Linked DNA regions of Homo sapiens: region 2 is linked to region 1. Evidence: fine-mapped expression QTL. Tissue or cell type: whole blood. Region 1 holds a variant in brackets; the other region holds the start of a gene. All regions are shown on one strand. Distances are between the middles of the regions. Region 1 overlaps LY86-AS1 (LY86 antisense RNA 1). Region 2 holds the start of F13A1 (coagulation factor XIII A chain).

Evidence for each region.
Region 2: F13A1 starts here. The variant in region 1 is fine-mapped to the expression of F13A1 in whole blood (TOPMed, PIP above 0.99).

What each region holds. Positions count from the first base shown.
Region 1 is chr6:6,358,137-6,370,375 of GRCh38, reverse strand. It overlaps LY86-AS1 (LY86 antisense RNA 1), which reads left to right. Exons shown (of 8, transcript NR_026970.1): 5 at 1,221-1,374; 6 at 3,767-4,021. Among named protein-coding and RNA genes, the nearest start is that of F13A1, 44 kb to the right of the region's middle. RefSeq lists an enhancer at 7,555-8,754. The variant G/A (reference allele first, on the strand shown) is at 7,336.
Region 2 is chr6:6,316,897-6,329,135 of GRCh38, reverse strand. F13A1 (coagulation factor XIII A chain) reads left to right here and starts at 8,474. Exons shown (of 15, transcript NM_000129.4): 1 at 8,474-8,549; 2 at 10,454-10,601. The coding sequence starts at 10,472. The region is part of intron 1 of LOC124901253 (a long non-coding RNA gene); the gene reads right to left.

The DNA of each region.
Region 1 (12,239 bases):
TCTTGACATTCTCTGTTCCTCAAACTTCCACATGGGACACTTTCCCTCCACCTCACTTTGCCTGGACCACTCACCTTTAAATTTTGAGTTAGATGTTGTTTTCTTTAGGAAGGTTTCTCTTTGGTGAGGGCAATCACCAAGATGGGATTAGCAGCCTTCCCCGTAGGTTCCTGCCCACTTTTTACTGTGTACTATTATTACTGATTTACCTGCCTTTTGTCCTCACCAGACTATAAGCTCCTTGAGGGTGGGACTCATGCTTTCCCAGATCCCAGCCCTCCTGTAGCAGCTGCCCAAGACCTCTCAGCCCAGAGGTGTAAATGGGGTGGTCAATCGAATGTGTGGATAGGGGTGAAGCACAGGAAACTTCATCCTCAGCAGGGCATGGAAGTGGGACAGGGGAAATCTAGGAACTGACATTTGAAAAATAGTGTGTAAGCACCTGTGTGCCATGCCAGATGTGGTAAGCATTTCTCCATGGTGTCTGAGAAGTCAGCATCACCAAAACTGAAAACAGAATTTGCTAAGTCAAAAGAAAAAAAAAAGTTGCCATTTATTTGACAGTGCAATTAAAGTCATTTATGAGAACTGATTATTCTGAAATTCTATGCAGTATAATTATTTATATAAAATTCTTTTAAAATGTTGTTGTAAATTTGGAGTAATTACAGCAGGATACCCTATGCATGTTTCACTGTTCTTATTTGCTCCTGGAGAGTGTCTAATTGCAACTCAGAAGAATAGACTGTGCTAAGGACAATCAATGTGTTATGATGCCATCAGGCCCTAGTCTGGGGCCATTTATATCCAACTGAGATAGAGAGGATTGGAGAAGATTTCTGCAAATAACTGACCTGTGTTTTAGAGGATAAGAATAAGGGAATTTCAAGCCCAGGGACAGTATCCGAAATCTCTAGTTCCCACAGAGTAATGAGACCTGGTTCTATAAGTCTTAAGTGAAAATACATTGCATTACTTGATAGTCACATCTTATATCCCAAAATGTCCTGAATAAATACCCCGTGTGCCATTTCTTTCTATGTCACCACATTTGCATACTCAAACATCTTCCTTCCTCCCTTCCTCCCTCCCTCCTTCCCTCCTCCCTCTCCCTTCCTTCCTTTCTTTCTTTCTTTTTTTCTTTCTTTCTTTCTTTCTTTCTTTCTTTCTTTCTTTCTTTCTTTCTTTCTTTCTTCTTTTCTTTCTTTCTTTTTTTTCAGGACATTACCTGTTGATTCTTGGGCAAGGCCCAGAATTTGGTGGACATACTTAAAGAAGAAAGGAATCTTCAGCTAAAGTGTCTACGATCAATTCAGATTTGGAGGGCATGGATCTTCTGACAGTAGGGGCCATTCTAGGATTTTTTGGTTGAAGGTGAGTGAGAATTTGGTACATGGAAGGGGATGGGTGACTCTAAGGGCAGAGAAAGGAAAATCAAGTGAGCTGAAGAAGGAAGCACAGTGGTGGGACTGACCAACTGCACTCATGACCATTTAACCATGTGTTGGCTTGTGTAAGGGTGTGGAGCTCACTAGAGGATTTGAAGATGTTCAATCTTGCAACATACTCAGTGACTGTGTGTCCTAGAAATAGCACAGCTTCTATAGGGACTAGAGGGAACAGAAGAGTGGGGCTGAGGAGACGGAGGTAAAAAATTGACAGAGGGTTATTTTGCCTAAATCAGCATGACCTCAGAGGAGCTTGGATTAGACCAATAATATTGGGTTGGTGCAAAAGTAATTGCAGTTTTTGCCATTACTTTTAATTACTTTTAATTTGCCATTACTTTTAATTTGCCACACATTCCATTGACTATTCCAGAACTACAGGTTCACCTAATGTATTGGGTTGGTGCAAAAGTAATTGCGGTTTTAGCCGACTAAATCTAGATCTAACCCATCTAGATTTAGTGGGCTTTCTTCAAACAGACTGCGCTGATCAGGTAGATGATAATAGGATTTTTTTTTTCCATTACCAAGACTTAGATAAGGTAGTCAGGGAGTAGTCAGTAAGCCTGGTTTCTAATGATAGCTGTACCACTTACCTGTGTTACCTAAAGCAAGGCACCACATTTGTTTGGCTTCAGTGGCTTCATCTATAAAATGGATGATTGCATAAATGATCAGTCAGCCCTCTACACCTCCTAACTCAAACAAGCAATGTAGTTCAGTTGCTATGCATTTTGTAAGGCTGTGGTTCTCAACCAGAGGTGATTTTACTCCCAGGAGACAGTTGGCAATGTTTGGAGACACTTCTGGTTGTCATTACTGCTATTGGCATCTGGCAGGTGGAGGCCAGGAATGCTGCTAAACAGTCCTTCAATGCACAAGGCAGCCACCCTGCCCCAACAAACATTTATCCAGCTCCAAATATCAATAGTGACAAGGCCGAGATACCCTGCTTAAGGGGGAGAAACTGACACTCAAAAGAGGACATGACACTGTCTTGTTCTCTAAGTGTGGCTGGGGAAAGTTATGGCAGGTTCTATGCCATGAACTATGGAAGAGTAACAGCATATTAGAGCTAGCATCTTGATATGCTTTTCTCCCTTGTTGAGTGTAGAATATAACTTCTCAATAAGTTTCTTTTAAGATGATGAAATAAACTCTAATTGAATATGCCATCTGGGAACATTGAACTGCACAGAGACAGCAGTGGGCTCAATTCACATTATTCTCCCCACCCACTCTGGGTAAGTCTGAGTGTGAAAGGACTACTCAACTGCTGTCATACCGTCCATTTTTAAACACCTTTCCATGAAGAAGCTCAGAGTTCTACATTGAACATGATAACACTGATCCTCTACTTACCTTAATGTTGTCTATTGCATTTTAAGGGAAACTGAGCACAAATGATCTTGTGGTGGATCTAGAATCATGACTTGGCTTTGCTGGTTCTTTCCTCTAGGTTCAATCCATTAGCAGATTTTGCCCATCGCCGATGTTTCTGCCACATGCACATGTTCTGCGTGAACTGTGCTTCTGCAAGAGAGGCTGCTGTATAAATCTCACTTGTGAGGATTAAGCGAGATTATGTATATAAAAAAAGTAGATGCCCAGAACATGCTTGTGTTCTTTGAAAGGGCCAAGCTAATGTTGAGCAACAGCAGTGGGTAGATCTTGAGATTAAATGTCACCTCCATGCTGTTGCCGCTTCTCAGTCTACTTCTTAATTTGAAGCGGGTGGTGATTGAAAGTGAAGGAGGTTTGTTCTGTCCCAATCTGGACGTGTTTCATGTTTGGGAATACAGGAAAACAAGACAAGTGGGCCAAACTGCCTTGTTTCAATGCTCCAGTGACCATGAGGACTAATTGCTGTGCTAACAAGAATGAGAGTTTATTCAGACTTAGCGGATCAATGGACACATTCAATTTTCTACAGGCGCAGCTCAGTCCTGTTCCGCCTCTACATGTGCATTCCAAAGAGGCACTGATCTACAGTAACCTCCAGATGGCTGCAAGTCCCCAGTCCTCAGCGTGGGATAACCTCCAGCAGGAGAGAGCCCCGCAGGCCGATTACAGCCACTGCTGTCTTTTTCTATTCACCTCTAACCTTTCTTCTATGTCCCTAACACCTATAGAGTTTTAATCACATTCCAATTCAAGATAGATATACTATAAGTAGAATAAATCCTGAGAGGCTGTATGAAAACCTAGTTCTGTTCTTGGGATGACTAAAGGAAACATGAACTAGAAGGGTAGTTAGAAGGTAACAGAAGAGAAAGCAACTAGCATGCAATTTACAGATATTTTCTTTTCCTTTATAGAGATGAACTTCAACTTGGTTCCAGATGGGTGGTCCAGCTATTCTGCTGACAACATTTTTCAGGGCAAGGCTTTTGCTACTGGAATGATTTAAGGAAGATCCCTCAGTGTTTCAGAGTAAAGATATTTCTAAAGAAGTACCTGTGTCATTGCCCATCTTGAAGATTGACTTTTATGGATTGCTCAAATACTGATATCAGCTCAATGTCAATATATACTCCTACATATAAAATCCATCTTCTAATCATAATCACTAGGTAAGATGCTAGTGCAAGTTGAAGTTCTTAAAGGAGATGACCTGAACAGCCTTCTTAGTGTACCAGGGAGACCAGATTGAGTTTAAACTATGTTTACCCTGCACTCAGACACGCCTAGGTGTGTCTGGGAGATTAGTAGATGGTGTTCAACAAGGATCTATTTAAACAAGGGAGACATTAATTTGGATTCCTTTGGTTGTAAATTTCCAAAAAAAAAAAAAAGGTCTAAGTTAAAATGTTTAAGGAGGATGGGGGAAGAATGTGATGACTGTTATAGTTAATGTGAGCTTTAGGCTTGGCCGGATCCAGGTACTAAAACAATGTTATTAGATAATAAATCTAATTAAATATAATCTAAATTTCCATCTCGACTCTGCTTAACCCTGTTGGACTGCAAGTTAATGGTAAAATGAGCATCCATCACATTCACCATTCCACTTGCTTCAAGTCTAGTGGAAATAAATGAGAAATTAGCTTATTTTTTAATTGAGTGATTGAGCAATAGATCTGGGCTTGGATTTCATTGATGTGGTTCTCATCTCTATCACTACACTCCCCAAAGTCACCAAAGATTAGGGTGACCATGCATCTCAGTTTGCCTGCGATGGTCCCAGTGTATATCTGCTACCTGAGCATAAATATGGATAAACCCTGCTGTAGTTATCCTTGAAGATGGCCCTCAATTAATTATCCTAGTCTCTAGTCTCCAATTGTTCACACTCTTCTGGGACCCCTTCCAGATTGAGTAGGGCCAACATAAGTAACCACTTCAGCCTTGCTCTCTCGGGTTGCTTGACCCGGGGGAAGACAGTTGCCATGTTGTTAGAATACTCAAGCTGTCTGTGGGATGCCCGCGTGGGGAGGCACTGAAGCCCTTGCCAACAACTGGTACTAACTTTCCAGCCATGTGACTGAGTCACCTTGGAAACAGATCTCACAGCCCCAGTGAAGCCTTTAGATGACTGCAGTCCCAGCCAATAGCTGGCTGCCATCTCATGAGAGGTGCTGAGCCAGAACCTGTACCAAATTCTAAATTCTAGACCATCTAAACTGTAGGAGGTAATAAATGTTTGCTGTGTTAACACAGCACTGAGCTTTGGGGATAATTTGTTGTACAGAAATAGATTACTAGTACATATCCTCTTTCACTCTTAAAAGTGTCCCAGTTTAGAAAATAAACTAATTGTTCACCGACCGATGACCTCCATGTTGACAATGCTAGTCTTCAATTCTCCATCAACCCCTATACTCGTTTTCCTCAATGTGTCAAAAGTATTCGGTACACTTGACCACTCCCTTCTCTTTGACACAATTTCTTCACTGTGCTTTCAGAATAGTATTTTCACAGGCTACTCCTCCTCAGGGTTGTTTTTTTTTTTTTTTTCCTTAAACACACTCTCATCCTTTCTTTAGCCCTGGATGCTGCAGGTCTCCAGGATCCTTCAGAAGTCCTCAGAATTTTTCTCTTATCTGTTTAATATTAATGCTTAGTGCCTCATCGATTTCATTTAGTCCAATGAACTTATAAGATGAACACTCCCAATGTTAACTCACTGGTCCAGATGTCTTCCTATGCTCCAATCCTGTGTAATCAGCTGCCTAGTCAGTATCTCCACTGGATGTTTAATATGCATCTGAAATCAACTTGTCCATAACCGAAGTTCTGATCTTGCTCCATAAGCTTTCTTCCCCTTAGACTTTCACATTCCAATTAAAGATAGCTAGCAGTACTTCTAGAGTTTCTCAGGCTAAAAATCCTGAAGTTGTCCTTAACTGCTTTTCCCTCCCACCTCACATCCAACACAAAGCAAATTCTGAGTCCAAGCATGCTCTCCAACCCCTCTACTATTACTAACCTTACCCAAGTTACCATCACCTTTTGCCCGCCCCCAAATATCTCCCTCTCAGCACCCTTCGATCTATTCACTACACCCCAGCCAGTCTGTGCTGATTCTACAACCGAGGTCAGATTGTGCTGCCCTCTGTGCAACCCCTACCATGGCTTCTTACCTAACTCAGAAGAAAACCCCAAGCCCTTCTCAAGGTCTGCAAGACCCTATGAAATCCAGCTCCTTCACTACCTGACCTCATTTCCTTCATGTTCATCTTGATCATACCACACTCACTTACTAGGGGTGGCCTGAAGATGTCAGGTGCAATCCTACGTCAGGTCCTTTGCACGAGTAGGTCCCTCCACTGGGATGCCCTTCCCCCAGATATCCATTTGACCACCTCACTTTATTCAGTCTCAGCCCAAATGCCACCTTGTCAGAGTGGCCCTTGACGATCACTATATAAAAGTGATCTCTACCATCACTTTCTCTCTGCTTATTGTCCTTTGTTTTTGTTTTTCTTGATAATGGTCACCACTAGCTGATGGAGTTGAACATATGTATATGTGTGTATATATATATATGTGTGTGTGTGTATATGTAATATATATATGTATATATGTGTATATATATATGTCCTTCCCCAATTTTCTCCCTCTAGAATGTGAAGTTTTTGAGAGAAGGACTGTTGTTCATTGCAAAGCCTGTTGACAAAAGTCCTTGTGGGCCATGGAAAGGACAAGATGCCATGAACATGGGTGCTGGCACCTTCTGCCACCATGGGAAATGCCCCCAATGGCTTCAGCTTCCTCAGCCAATGGCAGCCTGGCCATGGTCCTCCATATTTTTAGCCCATTTCCTATTTCCCATTTAGAAAAAAATGAAACAAGTGCAGCTTGCTACCAGTGCTCATTTAATTTACATAAACATGCTGTTTGAGGCTGAAGCAAATCTGACTGATTTGCAATGTGAAAATAAAATATAAAAACACTTCATGTAGTTATTTCTAAACAGAACTTGTCTCTAATCCTAATGTAACACAGATGTATATGATGTTACATTAAGATGAGAGACAAGAGTATTCTCAGGCAAACAGGAAATAGGTTAACAGGTGCAAGACCAGCCTTGGAGCAATCTGATGGGCGCCATCAGAGGAGCAGTGTGACTTCTGGGCACTGACCACAGCAGTGCTGGTTGGGTACAGCTAAGGGTAGGGATCATCCCCAAAGAAAATGGGACGAGGAAAGAAGAGCATTGGATGTCTCTTAGAGCCAACAGCACTGGCACTCAGAGTACAAGTGAGACCATCTCTGGGAGAGCCCAGAACCCTTCATCACATTATCAGCTCCTCACAGAAGGGCTCATGACTATCCTTTTCACAGCTGTATTCCTCATACCATGACTGGCACATATTAGTCGTGGCTCATAGATGCTTGTTGAGTTTATCAATGGTTCTGCATGAAGAGTTTGAGAAAGGCCAGA[G/A]ATTTATCAGAGAATGGAGGGGTGGAGACCCAGAAGTATTGATCTATGATTGTTGAAATGCTATTTTTATCATCAGAAAGATTTGGTCAGGGGCCTACAGGAACACTAGGAAGATACTTATAAAATATTCTGCTTCTTTAAAATCTCTCCCTTTGTAGAGCCATTAATCACAGAATTCCCAACCTGACGCCCCACTTTGTGGGTCTGTCGTCACAACTAGGGTATCTAGCTCATTGCCCCAGTTGCTCTTAACCTCTAAATTATGTTTTATACCTTTTTCTGCTGCTGCCATCCTAGGTTTTGCTGGCAGTAGAAATAAGATTGCCCCACTATCTTTCTTAAAACGATGTGAAATTTTCTGTTGCTCACTGGGTTAGTAGTTGACTCATGCTGCAGGAAATCTGGGAATTGAAGATGTGACAGATAATTAAGCCCCAACTCTCTCAAATAAACTCCTTCCCCTTCTCCATTACTCCTTCCTTAACTGTTTACTGTCAATTATGTGCTAAGCAATATGTAAAACATTAGGACTGTAGTAATAAAAAATACCCAATTTGTTTTAAAAATGTTTTTGAAAAGTAAAAACAAAAGGCTGAACCATGATGCTGGAATAAACAAAATTGTTGTTGAGCTTAGACTCTGAAAATTTTCTCTGCTTTTACCCTGTGTGTGTCTGAAGGTGGATATTGTTATGCAAGGAAGAGATGTGAATATACAGGAAATGAGATCCTTAAAGGGGTTGCCGTCCAGATGTTAGATCAAAGAGATTATGATTCATTCAACCAAGTCGCTGGACTTTTGAAGGCCTATCCAAGTCATGGTGCCTTTGAGGTTGCGCCTGTTACTATTCAAAACTTGGTATGTGTTATTCCATGTAAATGTTATGCAATGATTCAAAAATGAATACCAGGTTGAAAGATGTTATAACAGTCCCTTGTTCCAATGAACTCTACCTTTGTGAGCAAAGGTGACCAAAAAGACCACACTGCATGACCAGCAGCCCACAAACCAGACTGGGCTAAGTTCTGCTGCTATTTCTAGAGCTTGCTGCTGTTCAAAGCACTCCTTGGGTCCAGCCAGATTGCCATACTTTCTTGATGTATTTCCCATGGCTGCTTCATTTGTTGTTCATTTCTCTTAGTGCTTTTAGTAGGTTATTGTTTTAGGTGGCGTATCTGTACCTCCTCATAAAAGATTTTTGGGTCCACATTTTCCACTCAAAATCATAGTAGCCATGATGAACACCTGGCATCCTTTGGACAACTTTCCATAACTACATAATAATGAGCCAGTTTTTACCATCCATATTAGATATGGCTAGAGTGACTATTTTCTGAATCAAAATTGTGCTGAGCATTTGCCAAATATCAGATAAACTTAAAGCCCTAGAAGTATCTTAGAAAGTCCAAGGGGAGTGTCATTGTTCTAGACTTAGTTCAAAAGATGCTAGACAATGGCGTCCAAGTTCAGCCTTTGTAGACATATAGAGTGAACATTACCCTTGCTGTTATAGGTTTTATTCTCCACTGAGGGCCACAGAGCCTCACCATTGGTTTGCCCCACACACAACAGGGTAAATTCCTACTCCTTTGTCAATTAGGAATTTTCCAGGCAATGTGTTTACCTCTTGGGTAAATACATTACTTTCATCAGTGTAACTTAACTATAAAGTATTTTTAGAGGATCAGATTATTTGAGTATGGCTGTGATAAGTCTCTCCTTAAATGGACCTTAACAAAGTAGAAAGAAAACGTTAGCAGACATTTCAGACTAATGATGTTTTCTTTTTTTCAAGTGGGTTATTTAGAGTTGAATAGCAATTACTTAAAGCTAGTAGCAAAGGAACATTTTCTGTAATGATGTTTATTTATGCCTTTTCATTCTATAACATTCAGCATGTGACAAAGGAATTAGAGAAAAGACTAGTCGAATCTGGAGCCATGCAATTAATGAAATCCATATGTTTGAAGAAATCGTCTTATATAACTCCCATGCTTCTGATATTTCCTAGAACGTCTTAGATTGAGGTCATTGTGCACTATTAACAGAGTCCTGGTTAATAATGTACAATGACCTTAATTCAGCATGTTTTTAATGAATAGCTGAACTTCATGCTTATAACATCCTGACTATGCTTACAAATATTTTTCTAAATTGCTGGTCTGTTTGCAGATGCATTATCAGTGCATGCAAAAAATAAGATTATGCCTCGTTTAGGATTCTCTTTCTTGTAAAGTCCAATCACTGCTGCATTAAGATAGGTATGGGAATGTGTAGGCAAAGTCACATATAGTGACACACATTGGATAAAAAATATAAACTTCAGCCACATGATTCTTTCACTCAAAAACATAATGTGGCTCTCCTTTATATCTTTTTTTAATGATTTGCATAGCTTTCCATTGTGTGTATGTGCTATAATTTGTTTTAATAAACCCCCACTAATTGATAGCTGGATTGTTTCCTAGTTTGTAATTTATAAACCATGATGCAATTAACACCCAGGGAAACATATCTTTGTGTACTTGACAAATATTTCTACAGCATAAGTTTCTAGAAGGGGAATTTCTGGTTCAAAGGAAATGTACACTTAAGCTATGATTGGTATTGCTAAAAAACTATTTGTTTCAAATTCTCGCCAATTCTGGGAATCGGCATTTTCAATTTTTGCCAATTTGATGTGTCAAAAATCTTACTGTTGTTTTGATTTGCATTTATTTGATTAGTAAAGAGTCTGAATATCTTTTCATATATTTACTAGCCATTTTTATTTCCTCATTTGAAAACGGCCTATTCCTGAGCTTTGTTCATGGTTGTGTTGGATTGTTCTTTTTCTCATTAAGTTATACAAGCTCCTTGTGTATTACAGGAAAAAAAAAAACCATCTATTTTAATACATATGTTGCTTCCATTTTCATACTAATCACATTAGTATGTATTTTTCTATTGTACACTATTATTAAAGTTTCCCTCACTTTGATTCTCTGGCAAGTCCTATAAATTTTATGAGCAATTTTATTAAAGACATTTTTAAATATCATTATCAAAAAAGAGTGGGAAACTTTGCCTAAATATAGGAAAAATGAAGAAATGTACAGAACTTTTTTACTAAACATACAAGGTTTAATGTATATAAAGAAAAAACCTTTTATTTTTCCAGAAGATTCTTGAAGTCTGGCAATTCTTGGAGATCAAAAGTCTTGCATCACTTATGGAGACACTTCAGGCATGAGAGAGAGACCTATCTGTATCCCCTTAGAACACAGCATTATCAACTCCAGCAGGAGTAGAGTGTATTGTAGAAAGAATATGGGTCATGTAGACATTCTAGTTCATCATTCGTCATCATGTGCCCTGGTTTACCAGACAGTTCACTTCCTTTTCTGTGAAGTGCATGCAATTATACCTGACCTGGATGTAGGATTACTGTGGTCATTAAATGAGGTACACTATGTAAAATGTCTATATATAGTAGATGCTCAGTAAACACTCCTGTTCTCAATCCCGCAAGTTATCTCATGAAAAAATTGTACCTATAGCTACTCAACTGTGACAGGAACATTTAAAATGTAAAATCACCAAGTCAGTCAATATAAGGGTTCAGCTCTTTCTTGAAATACTCAGTTGCTGAGGTTTCTCACAAGTAAATCACGATACACTTGATTTTCTAGAATGAGGTGGAAAGTATATTCTCTTCAAGATAGTTCATAGCCTCTGTACATTTTAAATATCTAATGTTAATGCTGAAAATGATGCTTACTAGGGAAAGCAAGTGCTGCATGACAAATATTAGGGTCCATAAGCCATGTGAGTAAACTGAGAAGCTGGTCATAGTCCAAGAAGTGGATCAGGTATATGACTTGGTGTATGACTGATGCCTTATACGTCTACTTTGGCAGGGAAGGCCTCAAATACTTTTAGACAATAGTCTTCTTGGGGAGAAAAGTATGGCACCTGCAATTAGTCATGTTGATAGTACACACTCTTGATCTCACATGATGAAAAGGGCACTTCAGCTCTGTGGTCTTTCTCCCTCCAAAACCATAACCCCCATCTACTCATGAGGACAACTTTAGACAAATCCCGACTGAGGGGCCTTCTACACAATATCTGACCAGTGTTTCTCAAAACTGTCAGGGTCATCAAAACTAGGAAAGTCTAAGAAACTGTCCCCAGAGGAGCCTGAGGAGATACAGTGACTAAATGTAATGTGGTAGCCTGGATGGGGTTCTGGAACAGAAAAAGGACATTAGGCAAAACCTAAGGAAATCTGAATAAAGTATGACTTCAGTTAATACTAATGTATTACTATTGGTTTGTTAATTATAACAAAAGTACTGGACTAATGTAAGATGTTAATAATAGGGAAACTGGGTGTGTGGGCATATGGGAACTCTCTGTTCTGCCTTCACAATATTCCTATAAATCTAAAACTCTTCTGAAATGAAAAGTTTATTTTAAAAAAAATAGCTTCTTGCTTCACCGTCCATTCCACTCTCATTTAGTACATCAAAAAAGCAAAAAACAAAACTTCTGGAAAAGTATTTTCCCCAATACTTCTGGAAAAATAGTATGCTTTTAAGGAGGTTAAAGTCTCAATGTCACAAATCAGCATTTAATTTTCTCCAAATGTGTCTCAGATACTGGTCTCTTCTCGTCTGGGTTGCCCACTGTTTTGGGGGCCTATGCCAATCTGGGGCGCTAGTGGATGCTCGATAAATAATTAAGAATTGGTAGAGTGATGTGACAATTAGGTCTTTGTTAAGTAAATTCTGAATTCTGGCCAAACCAGTCCATGTCATGAAGTGGCTCTATTCTACAAGAAGCCAGACTGCAGACCAGCTGTGGGGCAACATCCAAGGTTGGCTTGCATGCGTGTGCACAACCACTCTCCTCACATTCAG
Region 2 (12,239 bases), 41 kb after region 1:
TGGACTTTATTAAGTCATGGCTGTTGGAAGACTTCTTTTTGGCTTTTCGAAGAATTCTAGATCATTATCACTCATAGAAGCCAGCAGGAGAATCTTGGACCACTAAAAGCCCCTTATAAAATTTCTTATATTTTTGGGCATCTGTGCTGTCTTTTTCAGAACATAGGCATAAGGAACTCTTCTGGGTAAGTTACACTGTCTATATTTATTAATACACACATGCACACACACACGTATATATAAACAACTTTTGTTTAAGTTAAAACTGCATTGTGGGAAATATTTTTAGTGAATCATGATATATGTCCATATGATAGAGTTAGTGTTTCTGATGCTATTTTAACCACTTATAGTTACCATTGTGAGAGGAGAAATGCATTAACAAGAAACACTTTCACAGGAAGGGCTCTGGCACAGTTATCTGAAACTTCACTGCAGAAATTGCTGAGGGAGCATCAAAGAAAGGAGAACTTGCCCCTTTATTTGGCTGTTTTAGCACCCACACATGCGATTATGCAATGGCCTTTGGCTTTCCTTAGAAATTCATAGATCATTATCCAGAAGTTCTGCTGTTAGGAAGACTCCAGCTGACATCATGTCCCTTCCATTTCTGGCCTTGTGTTAGTGCTTCACCTCATCAGCAAGAAGGTGCAGTTGTGCGACTACAACAGAGGGCAGCGGCACTCTTGGGCAAGAGTGCCCAAGACAGGGGCACCCTGCTGACCCATAGCCACAGACCTCATTAGAAGAGTTTGGTGAGATGCCCGTGGGTCTGCCCAGGAAGCCTACCTGGATGTGGGCTTCCAGAAAGAACTGGCAACATGTGGAAGCTGGTCCCTTCACTGGCAACCATGTGGAAGCTGGTGCCTTCACTTGGTATATATCAAATAAAATCAGTCTCTGACCCACTCCCCAGACATCTTTCTTATATAGCTTAAAAATGGAAGGCATTGGCTGGGCGCGGTGGCTCACGCCTATAATCCCAGCACTTTCGGAGGCTGAGGCGAGCGGATCACGAGGAGATTGAGACCATCCTGGCTAACACGGTGAAACCCCGTCTCTACTAAAAATACAAAAATTAGCCGGGCGTGGTGGCGGGCACCTGTAATCCCAGCTACTCAGGAGGCTGAGGCAGGAGAATGGCGTGAACCCGGGAGGCAGAGCTTGCAGTGAGCTGAGATCGCGCCACTGCACTCCTGCCTGGGTGACAGAGCAAGAGAAATAGACCCTTACATATACATATCCTCACATATACATATCCTCACATATACAACCACAACCAGCCAATTATAAATCTCACCCCTTGACAAGCATGAATTGCACATGAAGCTCTTGAAGAGGTTCTAGACAGAAAATACTGCAATAAATGCTGATAATGGCCTCTTCAAATTATCCAAAATTATTAGCAACTTAAATATTCACTTCCCTGATATGAGGATGATAATGAGAAAATACAGGTAATAACTATTACAAAAAGTTAAAATATTCATCATGGATGAGTGAAGGTTGTCCAGTGCACACATACCATTACTGGTAATATTTATTTAGAGCTAGCTTCTTGCCAGGGACTATACAAACCTTTTTATAGGTATTCTCTTCTTTGATCTTCATAATCTTGTGAGGTATACATTATTAGGATCACCATTTTACAGGTGAGGTTAAGTAATGTGCCCAAGGTTACATAGATAGTAGATTCTAACTCCAGCTGCCATATTACTCTTGGGAACACTCCAAAGCTCCTACTGTACTTGTACACACACACACACACACACACACATGCACACATATGTGCATACACATTTAGTCAGCATTCTGATAGTTTTACTGAAGCAAGCATTGTTTTTATAGCATCCCCATTATCTGGTGTTGGTTGTGGTTTTCAATTGCCACTACTCTTTAAATTAATAGCTTTGTAATAAGTTTGTGGAATTACTATTAGGTTTCACTTTCATTGATTATTTTGTTCATACACATTGCTGTATTATTTTAATTACTAATTTTTTCATAATGTTTTGTTATCATTGAATTTTTCCTCTGGCAAAGTGAGATACTTGGGATGGGTGGATGTGGGGTCTCTTGCTTCACTTAAGGAAAAGTATTGAATTAAACCATGCATGCATCTGTGTCATATGCAGTGAGGCTGGCATGACTGATGTCTCTTCCCACTGTGGGTGTTTCTAGCATTTTTTATGAAATTTTCTTTTTTTATGAATTTTTCATTTTTTATGAAATTTCTTTCCTTTAAACTTGAAAAATCGTTATCTGTAACAGACCTACTTCTAGTTGACCCTTCGTCATGTTTTATAAAGTCTTTTCAAGTTTAAAAATCTCTTGGAGTCTCCTTAAACTCCATCAGGACTCTGGAGGAGTTAGGAAGCCAGTGGAGAAAGTTTTCTGGAGCTAAACCCTCAGTGCTTCCTCAGTCCTTCCCTTCCACCTGCATACTCGCTCATATGCACGGCACACTTGCTCACACAGATGTGCACACACTCACAGACACATACACTCACGTAGACAATGCATACACACAGAGGCATACATGCTCAGAAATACCCATACACACAGATACTCAGACACACTCAGTCGCTCACACAGATGTGTGCACAGTCACATGCAGACAGACATATACACTCACAAATATATAGCCAGACACACACAGACACACATATTCACAGGGAGTTGTTTAATGGAAACAGAGTTTCAGTTTTGCAAGACAGAAACATTCTGGAGATGGGTCATACAATACCATGAATAGCCTTAACACTACTGAATTGTATACTGAAAAATGGTTAAGATTATAAATTTTATGTGTATTTTACCACAATTAAAATTTTTTTTAAGACAGAGATATTTACTGTAAGAAGGTGGGTACATTAGTTAAATCTTTCTTTCCTAAGGCGAGAACAGCTTTCTTCCATTTGCCTGCCATGAGGTGAGGCAGCCCCCAGCAATCCATCACTGCTCCTCGGGAAGGTAGATTACAGGTGATCGTAGATCCCTGGCAAGAGTGGGCTATGCCCAGGGAAGCCAAAGCAAAGAGAAAACTCCTGCCATCTGGACCTGTCCCTGGCATGGGTTTTCATCTTTCCTGAAAGAAGAAGGAAAAGAGGCTGTGGGAGACATGGTCCTGTCTTAGATCCCACGCCCTATTGTGGTGGCAACTGCGATGATGCTTTATAAATTCCTTTTAAAATGTCATTGCCAGACTTTGTGAAAACGCTCGTGAGGCTTTGAAAAATATGTGAATGGATACAGAGGGCCGCTTGCCTTCCCCCACTGCTCACTACTGTGGCTAGAACCTGACTACAAACTGCCCACCCAGCCTCCCTTCCATCCTCTCCCCCAGGACACTTCCATCTGGAGTGGAAAGTTTTCTCCAGCTCCTACAGGATGAAGGGCAGTGCAGGAGAAAGACTCTCCCAAGAGACGAACTTGGGTCATTCATGTCAGAGGGTCTGGCATCTTTGAACAAGGCCAGTTGTTATTTATGTATCTACTCACCTCCCTCTGGAATTACATCTATAACCAACAAAATCCAGGTCTTGTTCAGCTGGAAAAAACCAGCAGCGTCCAGACATGACTGGGTTTTTTGTTTGTTTGTTTGAGATGTGAAGTTTTGCATGTAAATCAAATAGAGTTTGCCAGAAAATTCATTGCCTGAACAAATATGGTCTGCTCCTTGGGTATTGCCAAGTAGGAGAAAGATGGTTTGTCTGGAGAGACTGCAGAGAAAAGTGTCAATACCATAGAAATGAAAACTCAGAATTAAAGGATCAAGGTAAGGGGATCCGGAATCCCTCCTCCCACGTATTTTCTGTTTACTCACAACTCCCAAAGTTTACTACATATTTCTGAGAGACGCCAGGATCCCAGAGTGATGTGTTTAGGAATTTTTACCCTGCTTCTTGGGGAGGCAATGGGGTGAGCCCTTCAGCTTCAGAAGAGTGAGAAGGTATGCCCAGGCCCGTGCAGCCAGAGGGAGTTCACGTCTCCTTGGAGGTCTCATGCTGAGCTGGTAAGGCCAAGAAAGTAGGGGCAGAACTGGATTACCCTTGTGACGTTCTCATTGGAGTCTCCTCGTGCTCCAGGCCTATTGACATCTCATGTGAGGGACTGGCCATGCCATGATGAAAGAGCACAGTGTGTTGTGGCAGTCCTGGAACTGTTTGCCCAGAGAGCCTTTCCTCACCCTTTCCCTGTATGGATGCAGTAAAGAGTTAACATAGCAAACCTGAAACTGGCTTAGAAAGCCCTACTTGCAAGCTTGGCCCTTGTCTGGCATCTGGGAACTTGGACTTCAGGAGTCTTCCCACTGTTCCCTAACTGACAAGTGGGGCTGGCTGGGCCTAAACTGTACAAAAATTGTGGCTCATGCTTAACACCTGCTTCCTTCAGGGAGTCTGGAAAATGGCTATGAGCTAGGTAGAGGGTACCTATGTGACCAGCCCCCCATAAACACCCTGAGCACTGAGCCTCTGGTGAGCATCCCTGGCAGATGACATTATATCAGTGTTGTCACAACTCATTGCCAGGGTTGGTAGGCACAGCCCATGTGCCTTGATTAGGACAGGACCTTTGGGAACTTCTGCCTGGTCCTCCAGACTTTGCCCAAGTGCCTTTTCTCTGCTGATTTGGATTTGTATCTTTTCGTCATGATTTATCGTGTAGTATATATGATATATGTACATTTGTATCTGATCATAGCTACGTGGGTGGCCGAGTCTGGTGAGTCCTCCTAGTGAATCACAGAACCTGGGGGTAGCCTTGGGGCCCCAGCACAGGAGTGGTGGGGCTAACTTTGCAGGCGGTATTTTCCAGAGTCCTTTGTCAACTGATTCTAGTGGAGTTCAGCAAAACGGCAGACAAGGGAGGGAGAGGGAGCGGGAAGAAAGGGACAAGCTAGGATCATTCTTCCCTCCCTCTTGACCTCAGACAGTGTTTCTTGGAATTATGGGATCTAAAGCTCCCACCAGACAGGACCACACGGTTCCAGTGCCTGACCTACCCTCAGTCCTCCCGCTACAACGACACCAACTCCTCTCTGCTGTTGCTAATTGTGGAGTTGATTCACCTTCTCGTGTTTGGTTTCTTGTCTCTTCTCTCACCTGTGTAACCAATCCCCTGCCTTAAATTCCTTCTTTTAGAAAGACCTAAAGTGGTTTTTGTTTTCCTGGATGAACCCCGTCTGTTACATGCCTTAAATATTTACATGGCTCCACTTCCATGCCAGGCAGGGGGCATTCAGAAATAAAAGACACCATCCCATCCTTAAGGACCTCAGAGCCTATGCACCTGTGGAAGTTGCATCCCTAGCACAGTTCAAGATTCACTGTGTGACCAGAAACCTTTGTTCTGATGTCTCAGCCATATAACCATGAGGAATACCCTGTAAAATGAATGGGCTTCAACCGCATTCTAGGGCTTGGTGGCTTAGACACATTTTTATCGACTTTGTTTAGCACAAGGAAAGCCATTGCATTTATGATGCTCTTGAGGTTAGTGGTTTGGGGGAGTCAGAAAGCCAACCACTGTGTGTGTATGTTCACAAAGCCAATAATTAGTCTAAGGCCAAAAGTGACACCGTGGAGGTGGTTGTGAGGGTGACAATCCTGTTCTGAATGCACAACTCAACCCCAAGTCCCAGGGGTACCTGGCATCTGCGTAACCTCATCTGAAGGGTGCAAGGGTGGCTGCTCATCCTCCAACCCCACATGGATGAGGGTATCTTGGAATTCTAGACACTCAGATTTGATGTTTGCCAGGAGAACTACCAGAATATGATCGTTAAGGATTGGGGGAGGGTTTAAAAATACTGAGGAGACCTGAAATTGTATGAATGCTGAGGGGAAGCAGTGCTAGACATCTTTAGGGTCTTTCTCTAGCACTCAGCAAGGGATGTGGCAAAGACGGCCTTTGGATAGTTAAGTGGTCAGCAGCCTCTCTCCAGGGAACTCTGGCTGGAGTCCCTACCTTTTTGTACTCTAGTGCAGGTACAGCCAAGGAAACAGAAAATGATCATGCAGTGTGAGGAGCACTACAACAAGGCAAACTCCTTGCAAGACAACTGGGGAGTCAGTGGAGGGAGACTGGGCAGGGAAGAAAGATGGCAGAGGAAGATGATAGGGAAGAAAGATGGAAGCCAAATGGCAGAAGCTTAGTGATGAAGAGGAGGAGAGGAGAAACAACAGTGGAAGGCAGGGAGGGTAGATTGGTGTTGGGGGAAGGTTTTTTAAAAATACTGGAGACCTCAAATTGTATGGATGCTGAGGGAAAGAGCAGTGCTAGAGGCAGGGTCCAGCTTGTATAGGCCTTGTCAGTTTCAGCTTGCAATTTATCCAAAAAGCAAAGAGAAGTAGCCATATAAGGGCTTTGTGCAAATAATTTGATTTCGGATTTTAGCCCTGAAATGCTCATTCTGACTGCACTGTAGAGAATGGACTGGAAAGGGGTACATACACGGGTAGATTCAAGGGCTGTTTAAGAGGTAGGATAGAAAATATTTGCTCAAGGATCGGATTTGATGATTGAGGGAGAGAAACAAGGAAGCCTCAAGAATGATGCCCATGTGTCTGGTGTACCACCTGCGTGCAAAGTGATGGTATTCATTGAGGTAGGGAACTCCTGAGATGCACCAGGTTTTCCAGGAAAGTGATACATCTCATGTTAGACATGATGAGCGTGTGTTGTCACTGGGATGTGACAAATGAGGATAGCCAGTAGGCACTTAGATACGGGAATCTGCAATTCTGGAAAAGATCTTGGCTAAAGACCCAGATTTGGGAGGTGTCAGGATATAGATGGAATTTGAAAACTATGGGAGTTCCTCAGACAATCAAGGAATATTGCGCTGCACTGGAGGAAACCACAGAGTGTTCAATGTCAAGGAGGCCTAGGAAAAATACCTTCAAAGACAGAGTTCAATGCTTCCAAAAGGTCAGGTAAATAAGAACTGAATCCTGTCTTTTGGCCTGAGCACAGGCCTTGGAGACCGTGACCTCCACTTTCAGTAGAATGATGAGGCGGAAGCCAGATGGCAGATACTTAGTGATGAAGGGGAGGAGAGGAGGAGTAACAGCAGGAGTGGGGACATAGGTTGGGGGAGGTTTTTAAAAAAATACTGAAGAGACCTGAAATTGCATGAATGCTGAGAAGACCCACTATTAGCAAGCAGGAGCTTGAAGCTGCAAGAGGAAGAGTACGTAAGAGTCACAGCAAAGCCCCGGAGAACAAGGCAACGCAGAAGCCTGGTTTGGAGATGCAGAGGGAGGAGGGACCTTTCCAACTTCAGTAACAAGAAGAAAGAGGAAAAGATAGATAAGGTTGCAGGCAGGTTCATAGATTGGTAGCAGAAAATTGAGAGAATTTCTAACCAATGGCATCTTTTTTTTTCTTCTTTATAACATTGGGAGATTGAGTGGCAGGGTCAGAAATTTGAAGACAGTAAAGAAGGTTAGAAATAGCCATGTTTGACTGGGTGCGGTGGCTCACGCCTGTAATCCCAACACTTTGGGAAGCCAAGGAGGGTGGATCACCTGAGGTCAGAAGTTCGAGACCAGCCTGGCCAACATGGTAAAGCCCCATCTCTACTAAAAATACAAAAATTAGGCGGGCATGGTGGCATGCACCTGTAGTTCCAGCTACTTGGGAGGCTGAGGCAGAAGAATCACTTGAACCCGGGAGGTGGAGGTTGCACTCCAGCCTTTGCAACAGAGCAAGACTTCATCTGAAAGATAGAAAGATGAAAGAAAGAAAGAAAGAAAGAGTAAAAGAAAAAAATTAAAATTTTAGGGGGAAAATTTTCTAATTTTTGAACATGCACTAAAATGATTTTCAGAGAAAACCAAGTGTTATTTTCTAATCTGCATGGCATTATTAAAGATGTTTACTCATCTTCCTTGGGGCTAGGCATCCCATTCCTGCAGGAAGTCTTGTGGTTAGGCGGTGGCTGTGGCTCTGGGATGATTCAGGAATGCAGACCATGCCTTATTTGCACAGGAGGGACACGTTGCTCTCACTGCATGCATGGTCACAACTGTCTGTGTGACCTGTCTGTGGGAGGGCAGACCCCCCTCCTGCCAAGCCACAGTAGCAGCTGACCTGCCAGGCAAAAGCATTCCTTTGTAAAGGAAACCCTCCCAGACCCTCTGACCAAAGGGGACGGGTGGGGACTTCCTGGCACTGCAGGGCCCCTTGCCTGGTACTCCCAGCAACTGGTTGCGGTGGGGAGGGCAGATCTAGGGATGGGGATGGGGAGGAGAAGTGGGAATGGGAAATTGGGAGTCAGAGGGGCAAGTGGGAGAGAAGGGCGCACCTGCCGGGATAACAGGCCAGATGAAGTAAATAGAAAATCCTCTGAGCTCCCCTACTGGCTCCAGCTGTGGAGAAGGGGGAGGAGAAAACCCTGTGGGACAGGGGAGGAGGGTGAGGGCTCCTCTTAGGAAGTTATTTAAGAGCCAACTGTCTTGTCTTTCCCGAGTCCGTTTGAGGAAGTCCCCGAGGCGCACAGAGCAAGCCCACGCGAGGGCACCTCTGGAGGGGAGCGCCTGCAGGTAAGCCACCGACCCTGCACCCTATGAGCCAGGGCCCGCTGCGTCCACCTTCTGCACCTCGGTTTCCTGGTTGAACCAGCAAGCGGCTTGCTCTGGGCCCTGTGGCGCCGGTCACAGGCAGCTCCACTTGCCCAATCCTGGCTTCCCGCCCCCAACTCCGCACCTGCCCAGCCCAGCTTCTAAGCGGGACTTCTCTCAGGCTCTCGAGGCAGCTCTCCCGAAGCCGTTGCTTGCTTAGAATGCCACCAAATGGGGATGGGGGAGTTGGAGGTGCTTCCCCAAGGGACGAGCCCCCTTTCCTCAGGGAGCAGATTATGGAGCTGGAACACAAAAGGTGGAGGGAGTGGGGCCAAGTGAGAACAGCCTGCTAGACTGGAACCCCGCCGGCTTGGCTCCCCACTCCTGCGCGCCTCCCCACTCCTGCGCATCGCCTGCCTCCGTCCCAATTTGGAGCTGAACTCGAGCCACTTCTCCTCCTTAGACCCGCCCAGAAGCGAGGGCTCCTGCCCGCCGCACTCACCCAGCCAGGCGTGCACCTGGGGCTCCCCCCTTCTCCCCCTTAGCACTGTGTCTCCCGACAGCGCGCCACACTGTTCTGCACCCCTGGCAATGCCGCAGCCTACCTTCGGTATTTCTCACTAGAGGATGGCTCTCGCAGCCTTCTCCCTATCATTAACCCTTTTTCGCTCTTCTCCCTCCCTTCCCCCGTCAGCTCACCAATGACTGTAAATATATTTATCTATACTTATGGATACCCATTCACACCTTATGCATCCAAACACTCCTGTCTCCTTCTCAGACCAGACACCTTAGGCGTGGTTGTCTTTTCTCCAGCATGTTGTTAGTGCTCCACATGTCTCTGGAACCATCTCTCTACTCTGGTGGCCTCTATAATGGGGACTCTTCACCTCTTGGGGGTGTGCCTGGTTTTTGAAAATAGCCAAGTCTCCAGGAGTCATGACTGGGTAATCCAGGGGATCAAGGGGGAACCTTCACTGGGCCCAGAAACAAAGTCCCCCTTCATTTGGTCATTTGGTCAACAAGTACTTACTGGGCACTGACCGTCAGGTGTGTGTTGTTTAAACTGGCTCAGTGCCTGCACAAGCTCCAAGGGAAGGGGAAGCAGGCTTGGGGAATGGGAAATGTTGGCAACCCTGACTTCTTAAGCCTATTGATAGCCCTATTGAAAATTGCATGCCCAACCTCTCCACCTCCTTATCCTCCTCCATGTGGCTCAATTTCCAAAGCAGTTCCTACCTCCTCACCCCTAAGTGGATTTACTTATGGCTCTTCTTGGGCTCCACCCTAACCCTATCAGACTATAATCTATCAGAGCAAACATTCTGTTTTGTTCTCTGATGTATCCCATGTACCTAGATCACAGCCTGGCATGTCATAGGCCCTCAATAAATATTGGTTGAATTAAATTGCAAATGTAAACGCTTTAGAAGACAACATTTGTCTGGACATGGTTGTGTGCGTTTATTCTTAAAAGTGACTTATAATCTCATAAATCTGTATGAAATGAACATAGATACAGCACATGCATATAACAGGAAACATTTCTTGCGAAGATGCTGCTGTAGGATTATGGAGGGTGGGGGAATCTGGGTCTCCAAAAATCTTTTAATTTTTAAATTTCTTTGAATAAGCCCCTTTTCTTCTGCTTTCCATATGTTTTGACACATACAAAAATCTCCCCAAGATCCTTGGGGAACTGTATTCCATCATTAGACTAATCCTTGCTGCCACTTCTCAGTTTTTATTTATGCAAACGGCAAAATGTGTTGCTCAAGTGCTATCACACACAGATATATCTGTTTCTCTATTTTGGAATCCTTGTCTCAAATGTTACTCACTTTACATGCCTTTTCTGTTGTCTTCTTTTTTTTTTTTTTCTGAAGGACCTTGTAAAGTCAAAAATGTCAGAAACTTCCAGGACCGCCTTTGGAGGCAGAAGAGCAGTTCCACCCAATAACTCTAATGCAGCGGAAGATGACCTGCCCACAGTGGAGCTTCAGGGCGTGGTGCCCCGGGGCGTCAACCTGCAAGGTATGAGCATACCCCCCTTCCCCACCACTCTGGGTCCAGGCACAGCCGGGCCCTGGCCCCTCTTCCCTGCAGGTAAACATCCTCTGTCTCCACTGGGGTTCCCACAAAAGGAAGCCCCCTGCCAATCTCTGGTTTTATAAAGGAAGAAAGCAAAAGCTTTCTTTTAAGTGGTGAAAGCACCGAAGACCCAGAGCCTTGTCCCAGTTCTGCCCCTTACTGACCTTGTAACCTCAGAGAAGTTGCTTTGTCTTTCTGCCTCTCAACTATTTCCTCTACAAAACCAGAGTGCTGGATTAGCTAGGGCCTCTTCCAGCCCTACTGCTCAATGCTTTAGAGAATTTTCTCTAGCTGGAATATTCCACTTCCAAAATATTGTGGCTGTTTTGATTGTCTGGCTTGCACCTCCTTCCTTCTCCCTCCTCCCTCCTCCATCCATTGCTGTGAATTTCAGAGCCGGGGAGAAGTGCCAGACTCTGACAGTAATAGAGATAGAAGCCCTCTATTTCTCTCCAGAGCAGCCTGGTGAGCTGGCAAGGCAAGCTGCTTCCCCAGCCTCTTGCCTCTGCCTGATCCCTAGAAACCTGTTCCGGGTACAGCAGCCGGCAGCTGACCTCCTCTCAGCCCTGTCAGTGGTGACAAGGTCCAGGTGCCAGCACTGGTTTGGTGATACAGACATCATTCCCCTGGGCCATGGCAGGGACATTCAGACTCATGTCCCCGAGTGGCATTGAGCAGGGAGTCTTTTTTGTCAATAACATTCATGCACCAAAATCTAATTTTACTCCTAAGGGTGTTCTGTGCTGGGTTTCACTGGGGATAAACACCTATTTGCTGGGATAGGTGAGCATGGTCATGCTGGAGCTGTGTGGTCGATTCCCCTCATTAGAAGGAGACCAATGCCTGAAAGCCCAGATTGATGCAGCTCTCCATATAGCAAAGGGAAAGGGGAAGTGCAGTTTATCCAGCAAGCCAGACACTTGCCCAGGTGTTGTGGACTGGTGTCATTGTGTTACTGTCACACTAGATGATTTGATATCAAATAGTGAAATCAGGGAGGTATCCAGTACCATCCAAGTTTGGGAAAAGAAGTTCACAGAACAGAAGGGCATCTTCAGTCAGGTGGTAGAGTTTGAGGGGCTAAGACGAACTTGTAGTTCTGAAATCTGTCTCCCAGCTGGATGCCACTCTCTAAAACCCCACCTTGACAGCCACAGAACTGAGTTTAAGAGGACTTGCTAATCAATGAATCCTCATCCCCATGTTATATGTTAGGAAATAGAGGCTGAAGGTAAGCAGTTGATATTCACTGCTTACCCAGTCTACGAGTCTTTTTCTTTAAGAATGCAAATAAAATGCAAAAGCCTACAGATATCAAATTATTAAGCAGGTTGCCTTTGTGTATTCCATCTTCTAGCAAAATTCCCCTGTGGCCCAAAAGACTCTGGGCCCCCGGAAAGGGGGTGTAGGCACTGGAAGAAGTGGGCAGTAAGAACAGGAGGAGTAATGACACAACCGTCCTTGCCACGAGGAGTCAGGACACAGCCACCCTTGCCAGGATTGGGAAAAACGGGAACCTCTACAAAGGCAGTGCAGGGAAGCAGGGAAGCAGAGAGCAGAGGCAGAAGACCTGGCTTCCTG